Linked DNA regions of Homo sapiens. The protein of the gene in region 2 purifies or fractionates together with the protein of the main gene of each other region. This does not show direct contact. Each region holds a gene or a part of one and is shown on either strand. Other genes may lie near its edges.

Region 1 (3,663 bases), about 10 Mb from region 2:
AGAGTCTCTGACAAGACCAAAGATAGAGCATTTGTTTTTCTCATCAATAATCTAAGCAAGGGTTATTTTGAGCTCTTTGTGAACTATTTCTCTTAAAATAGGAAAAGAGTTAATCTTGTCTCAAAAGAGATAGATTTTATTTTCTTCCCCTATACCTGGATGTATATTATAAACATAAAGACACCCTCAGAGAAAAAAATATAAATATTTAAAAATTAATGTAAATTAGTTCTTAGTATTTTGGTATTTATAATATTCTCCCAAACATCAACATTACTAAGGGGATTTTTGTTAAAGACAACTAAGTAATGAATTATATACACTTCTGACTTTTAAAATAAGAAAAAGAGTCACTTACCCCATCAAATCTTGATACCTTACTAGTCTACATCTTTGTTCACATATAACACCTGAATGAGGATGAGACAAAAAAGTCTTAAAAAAAAAAAAGATTTTGTCCCACTTTTTAATACTCAAAGATCAGGTTCCTTAAATTAACTTTGAATTAATTGGCTGATAATGTGATTCTGTCTGATGCAGTCTCCCTCTGTGACTTCCCTCTGTACAGAATCCAGATGACCCAGATATGGTTGATGTCTTCATGGATCACTTGGATATAGACCACAACAAGAAAATTGACTTCACTGAGTTTCTTCTGATGGTATTCAAGTTGGCTCAAGCATATTATGAGTCTACCAGAAAAGAGAATTTACCGATATCAGGACACAAGCACAGAAAGCACAGTCATCATGATAAACATGAAGATAATAAACAGGAAGAAAACAAAGAAAACAGAAAAAGACCCTCAAGTCTGGAAAGAAGAAACAATAGAAAAGGGAATAAGGGAAGATCCAAGAGCCCAAGAGAAACAGGGGGGAAAAGGCATGAATCTAGTTCTGAAAAAAAAGAAAGAAAAGGATATTCACCTACTCATAGAGAAGAAGAATATGGAAAAAACCATCATAACTCAAGTAAAAAAGAGAAAAACAAGACTGAAAATACTAGATTAGGAGACAATAGGAAGAGGCTAAGTGAAAGACTTGAAGAGAAAGAAGACAATGAAGAAGGAGTATATGATTATGAAAATACAGGAAGAATGACTCAAAAATGGATACAATCAGGCCATATTGCCACATATTACACAATCCAGGATGAAGCCTATGACACCACTGATAGTCTATTAGAAGAAAACAAAATATATGAAAGATCAAGGTCATCTGATGGCAAATCATCATCTCAAGTGAACAGGTCAAGACATGAAAATACAAGCCAGGTACCATTGCAGGAGTCCAGGACAAGAAAGCGTAGGGGATCCAGAGTTAGCCAGGACAGGGACAGTGAGGGACACTCAGAAGACTCTGAGAGGCACTCTGGGTCGGCTTCCAGAAACCATCATGGATCTGCGTGGGAGCAGTCAAGAGATGGCTCCAGACACCCCAGGTCCCATGATGAAGACAGAGCCAGTCATGGGCACTCTGCAGACAGCTCCAGACAATCAGGCACTCGTCACGCAGAGACTTCCTCTCGTGGACAGACTGCATCATCCCATGAACAGGCAAGATCAAGTCCAGGAGAAAGACATGGATCCGGCCACCAGCAGTCAGCAGACAGCTCCAGACACTCAGCCACTGGGCGCGGGCAAGCTTCATCTGCAGTCAGCGATCGTGGACACCGGGGGTCTAGCGGTAGTCAGGCCAGTGACAGTGAGGGACATTCAGAAAACTCAGACACACAATCAGTGTCAGGCCACGGAAAGGCTGGGCTGAGACAGCAGAGCCACCAAGAGTCCACACGTGGCCGGTCAGGGGAACGGTCTGGACGTTCAGGGTCTTCCCTCTACCAGGTGAGCACTCATGAACAGCCTGACTCTGCCCATGGACGGACCGGGACCAGCACTGGAGGAAGACAAGGATCGCACCACGAGCAGGCACGAGACAGCTCCAGGCATTCAGCGTCCCAAGAGGGTCAGGACACCATTCGTGGACACCCGGGGTCAAGCAGAGGAGGAAGGCAGGGATCCCACCACGAGCAATCGGTAAATAGGTCTGGACACTCAGGTTCCCATCACAGCCACACCACATCCCAGGGAAGGTCTGATGCCTCCCATGGGCAGTCAGGATCCAGAAGTGCAAGCAGACAAACACGAAATGAGGAACAATCAGGAGACGGCACCAGGCACTCAGGGTCACGTCATCATGAAGCTTCCTCTCAGGCTGACAGCTCTAGACACTCACAGGTGGGCCAGGGACAATCATCGGGGCCCAGGACAAGTAGGAACCAGGGATCCAGTGTTAGCCAGGACAGTGACAGTCAGGGACACTCAGAAGACTCTGAGAGGTGGTCTGGGTCTGCTTCCAGAAACCATCATGGATCTGCTCAGGAGCAGTCAAGAGATGGCTCCAGACACCCCAGGTCCCATCACGAAGACAGAGCTGGTCATGGGCACTCTGCAGACAGCTCCAGAAAATCAGGCACTCGTCACACACAGAATTCCTCTAGTGGACAGGCTGCGTCATCCCATGAACAGGCAAGATCAAGTGCAGGAGAAAGACATGGATCCCGCCACCAGCTCCAGTCAGCAGACAGCTCCAGACACTCAGGCACTGGGCACGGACAAGCTTCATCTGCAGTCAGAGACAGTGGACACCGAGGGTCCAGTGGTAGTCAGGCCACTGACAGTGAGGGACATTCAGAAGACTCAGACACACAGTCAGTGTCAGGCCATGGACAGGCTGGTCACCATCAGCAGAGCCACCAAGAGTCCGCACGTGACCGGTCAGGGGAAAGGTCTCGACGTTCAGGGTCTTTCCTCTACCAGGTGAGCACTCATAAACAGTCTGAGTCCTCCCATGGATGGACAGGGCCCAGCACTGGAGTAAGACAAGGATCCCACCATGAGCAGGCACGAGACAACTCCAGGCACTCAGCATCCCAAGATGGTCAGGACACCATTCGTGGACACCCGGGGTCAAGCAGAAGAGGAAGGCAGGGGTCCCACCACGAGCAATCGGTAGATAGGTCTGGACACTCAGGGTCCCATCACAGCCACACCACATCCCAGGGAAGGTCTGATGCCTCCCGTGGGCAGTCAGGATCCAGAAGTGCAAGCAGAACAACACGTAATGAGGAACAATCAAGAGACGGCTCCAGGCACTCAGGGTCACGTCACCATGAAGCTTCCTCTCATGCCGACATCTCTAGACACTCACAGGCAGGCCAGGGACAATCAGAGGGGTCCAGGACAAGCAGGCGCCAGGGATCCAGTGTTAGCCAGGACAGTGACAGTGAGGGACATTCAGAAGACTCTGAGAGGTGGTCTGGGTCTGCTTCCAGAAACCATCGTGGATCTGCTCAGGAGCAGTCAAGACATGGCTCCAGACACCCCAGGTCCCATCACGAAGACAGAGCCGGTCACGGGCACTCTGCAGACAGCTCCAGACAATCAGGAACTCCTCACGCAGAGACTTCCTCTGGTGGACAGGCTGCGTCATCCCATGAACAGGCAAGATCAAGTCCAGGAGAAAGACACGGATCCCGCCACCAGCAGTCAGCAGACAGCTCCAGACACTCAGGCATTCCGCGCAGACAAGCTTCATCTGCAGTCAGAGACAGTGGACACTGGGGGTCCAGTGGTAGTCAGGCCAGTGATAGTGAGGGACATTC
Region 2 (3,663 bases):
CAGTAGGGTGAGAAAAAGGGTCAGATGAAGTTTGACAGTCTAAGTGACTGAAACAATGGGGATGACATTTATTTATTCGACAAATATATTTTGAGTGCTTACCTTGCGCCAAGCATTTTCCATTACTATGAAGAGAAGTATAATTTATGGAAAAGGGAAACCAAGGAGAAAGACTTAGTTCAGTAGGGGATGATGATGGATTTAGTTTGGAGTGTAGGTCTGTGAGACTGAGAAGACATTCAGTAGAGAAATAAGGAAGGTAGCCGGAATTATGGCTCTTAACTCCAGGGGAAAGATAAAAAAAATTACAAAAATGTAGACATCATTGGCTTTCATTTAATAATTGAAGTAATGAAATATCTGGTGGAGGTGGCTGAGTGAAGAGATCCTCTCAGCCACTGAGAGATGACATCAGAGTCTCAGGAAATAGTCATATTAGCAAAAGTTACTTTTTAAATTTAAAACAATTTCAAGAATAATATATGCTTACTGGTGATTTTAATAACTCTAAAGTATATAAATATTGAACATTTATTTTCTTATCCCTTCTTCACTTGATTTAATTTTGACCAAGGGGGAACTGAACAGGCATTCCTTTTAATTTCTGTTGCTTTTCATAAAACTTTCCTGGGATTTATTTTTCTGAGGATAATGGGAAATATATTTATTGCAAGTAAACTTACGTTCTCCTAGCTTTCTGATCTGTAGAGAGAAGAAAAAGATGGCAAAACCTTGGAAGGGAGATCCAGGCTCTGGTCACTGTGGATAAGGCCAGTCAAATTTTATAATTTACCAAACATTTTCAATGATTAAATATATTTTAAAAGGCTGGCATAATCACCCTTAGTATTTTTTTATTTTTTGCGATTCACAAATTTTACATATTATTGATCTAGCTCTAAACCTCAAGGGTCACACCAATTATTGCTTGAGGGTGAGTATCCCAATCTCGTCATTTGGGAAATTTGTGTCATATCTGCCAGAGCTTGAGATGCAGAGCTTGAGGAAAGAGAAGTTCCACATGATGGTTTTTGCTCTGTCCCTCCATAAAAAGAAGGAAGGAGCCTCTTCGTGTTCTCTAAGTAGTCAAATAAGCATACATGCAGTTATATTCCATCCAGCAGTCAGGCTTCTGGAAAACTCAGCCTTTAAAACAGAGCCTCTTACTCAGAAGTCAAAAAAGCCTGCTAAGCTAGAACACAAAACTAAATCCAATACCTGGGATTCTCATGAAATCCTTGCATCTTACTTCCTGGGTCTAGTATCCTACAAATTTAATTAGAATTAAATAGAAATTATTATTTAAATTTAGAGCTTGTATTTTCCCCCTTAGTTTAATATCAAACTGGGTTGTTGGATATGTGGAATAGAAGAGAGTGTGACTGGATTCTCTGAAATTGATTCACTGAACAATGACAATATGTAGTTAAAGGAGAGTCAGCACCAAGCTCTGGAAACATTTATATGATAGTGGGGCAAGTGCTACTATGTATGGTAGCATTCATTCTATGCATTTATCCATTTCCTCATTTACTCTATGAATTAGTTCATCAAATGCATTTGATAATATTAAGTCATTATGTGAAGACATATTCAGTATATAAGAATAGGCAAGGTGCAATAAATTATAGAAAGCTTTTCATATTAAATAAGACATTGTTTAAAAGTTTTACTACTAAAGGAGTAAGCATCAAATATTTTATAAAAATTACTAATATGAAATTCTTAGTTCTCCATTGATGCAAGATAAACGAGTCAATACTATAATGCAAATCTGATTATTTACAATCCTTCAATTCCAAGATAATAAGCTCATACAAAATCTGGAGTGAAGATGCCGGGTAAAAGCTCTTCCACGAATGTGTGGTTAACTCAGATTTCTCTCTCCTTTTCCTCCTCTTCTCCTGGCCTGAGCAGCATGACAGAAGGGCTAGGCCAATTGACCGATGGTGTGTCTGGCCTGGACGATTTCACCCAGACCCATGAATACCACGTGTGGCCCGGCTATGACTATGTGGGCTGGCGGAACGAGAGTGCCACCAATGGCTACATTGAGATCATGTTTGAATTTGACCGCATCAGGAATTTCACTACCATGAAGGTCAGTGGGGTCGGGTGTGGTGGAACTTCTTTAAGGAGGCACAAATCATAGTGTGGTAGAGAAAAGGCATGCTAGAAAAAAGTCTAGGCTGATGCCAGTTCAATGACATATTCTGTTACTAACTAGCTAAATGCATTTCACAAGTCACTTCATCTCTAAGGGCGTGATTCTCCATTTGTGTGTAAGGGAGTTAGAATAGGTCAGTGAGCTCTCTTTTTTTTGTTGTTTTGACACTAAAGGTGACATATCCATTAAGCCAATAACACAGTGTCCAGGGCCCACAGATTTTTAAGACGCATAAAAATGCTCTAATTTCTTTTAATATCAGGTGAAAAAAATAAATTTTTAGGGTCAAAGATTATCTTTTTACCAGCACAGTTGTGTGTGTGTGTGTGTGTGTGTATACACACACAACTATATATATATACACAATGATATATATATATACACAACTACATATATATAACCATATATACATATACAACTATATATATACATATACAACTATATATGTATATACATATACAACTATATATATGTATATACATATACAACTAGATATATGTATATACATATACAACTAGATATATGTATATACATATACAACTAGATATATGTATATACATATACAACTAGATATATATATGTAGTTGGTGTTCTGCAGTCTTCTGAATTTTTCCTTCTAGGAACCTCACAGTGGCAGTGATAGTTGGTCAGGCCTTATAAAACCTGGGCTGCAACCCTGGTTACCTGTATGCACTGTCTGCCCTTGGCCACCTCACTTCATGTTGCTGGACTGCAGTTTTCTCATCTGTTAAATGAGGACTGCACCAGCATCTTCTCAGCCCTTCCTTGCCTTGAACTCTCTCGAGTCTATAATCCTCTCAGCCGCAGTTGCCGTCTACCCTGATTCGTGTGTGTATCTATACACATAGATACATACACACATATGTGAGAATATGTGTATTCTCATTTAGAAATGAGATTTCTAAAAAAAAAAATGAAATTGTTTTAGATTGTACACTATTTTGGGTTTCTCACCTAGCCCTGTGAAAAGAAGAAGACTGGCTCTGAAATGTACCTAGGAGGAAGCAGGATGGCAGTCTTCCTCTTACCTCAGTTCAGAATAGCTCGAATCAGGGTAGACGGCAACTACTGAGTTGGCTGGCACTGTGTCTCCATGCACCTTAGCAGGGCCAACCTATCACTCACATGCCTCTTTCTCTACCAGGTCCACTGCAACAACATGTTTGCTAAAGGTGTGAAGATCTTTAAGGAGGTACAGTGCTACTTCCGCTCTGAAGCCAGTGAGTGGGAACCTAATGCCATTTCCTTCCCCCTTGTCCTGGATGACGTCAACCCCAGTGCTCGGTTTGTCACGGTGCCTCTCCACCACCGAATGGCCAGTGCCATCAAGTGTCAATACCATTTTGCAGATACCTGGATGATGTTCAGTGAGATCACCTTCCAATCAGGTAGGGAGCTCAGGTCCTCTTTGGGAAGTGGGAGCAAGGTGATGAAGGAGGAATGCACATGCCCAGAACTTCTCATTAGCAGGTCTC

What was found.
Region 1: the proteins of DDR2 (region 2) and FLG purify together in Homo sapiens (affinity purification with mass spectrometry; one large-scale study listed by BioGRID and IntAct). This does not show direct contact.

The regions. Positions count from the first base shown.
Region 1 is NC_000001.11:152,311,653-152,315,315, reverse strand, and holds part of FLG (filaggrin), read left to right. Parts: intron 1-358; exon of another isoform or gene 359-568; coding exon 569-3,663.
Region 2 is NC_000001.11:162,757,879-162,761,541, forward strand, and holds part of DDR2 (discoidin domain-containing receptor 2 precursor), read left to right. Parts: intron 1-1,917; coding exon 1,918-2,101; intron 2,102-3,332; coding exon 3,333-3,576; intron 3,577-3,663. UniProt on the Homo sapiens protein: Tyrosine kinase involved in the regulation of tissues remodeling. It functions as a cell surface receptor for fibrillar collagen and regulates cell differentiation, remodeling of the extracellular matrix, cell migration and cell proliferation.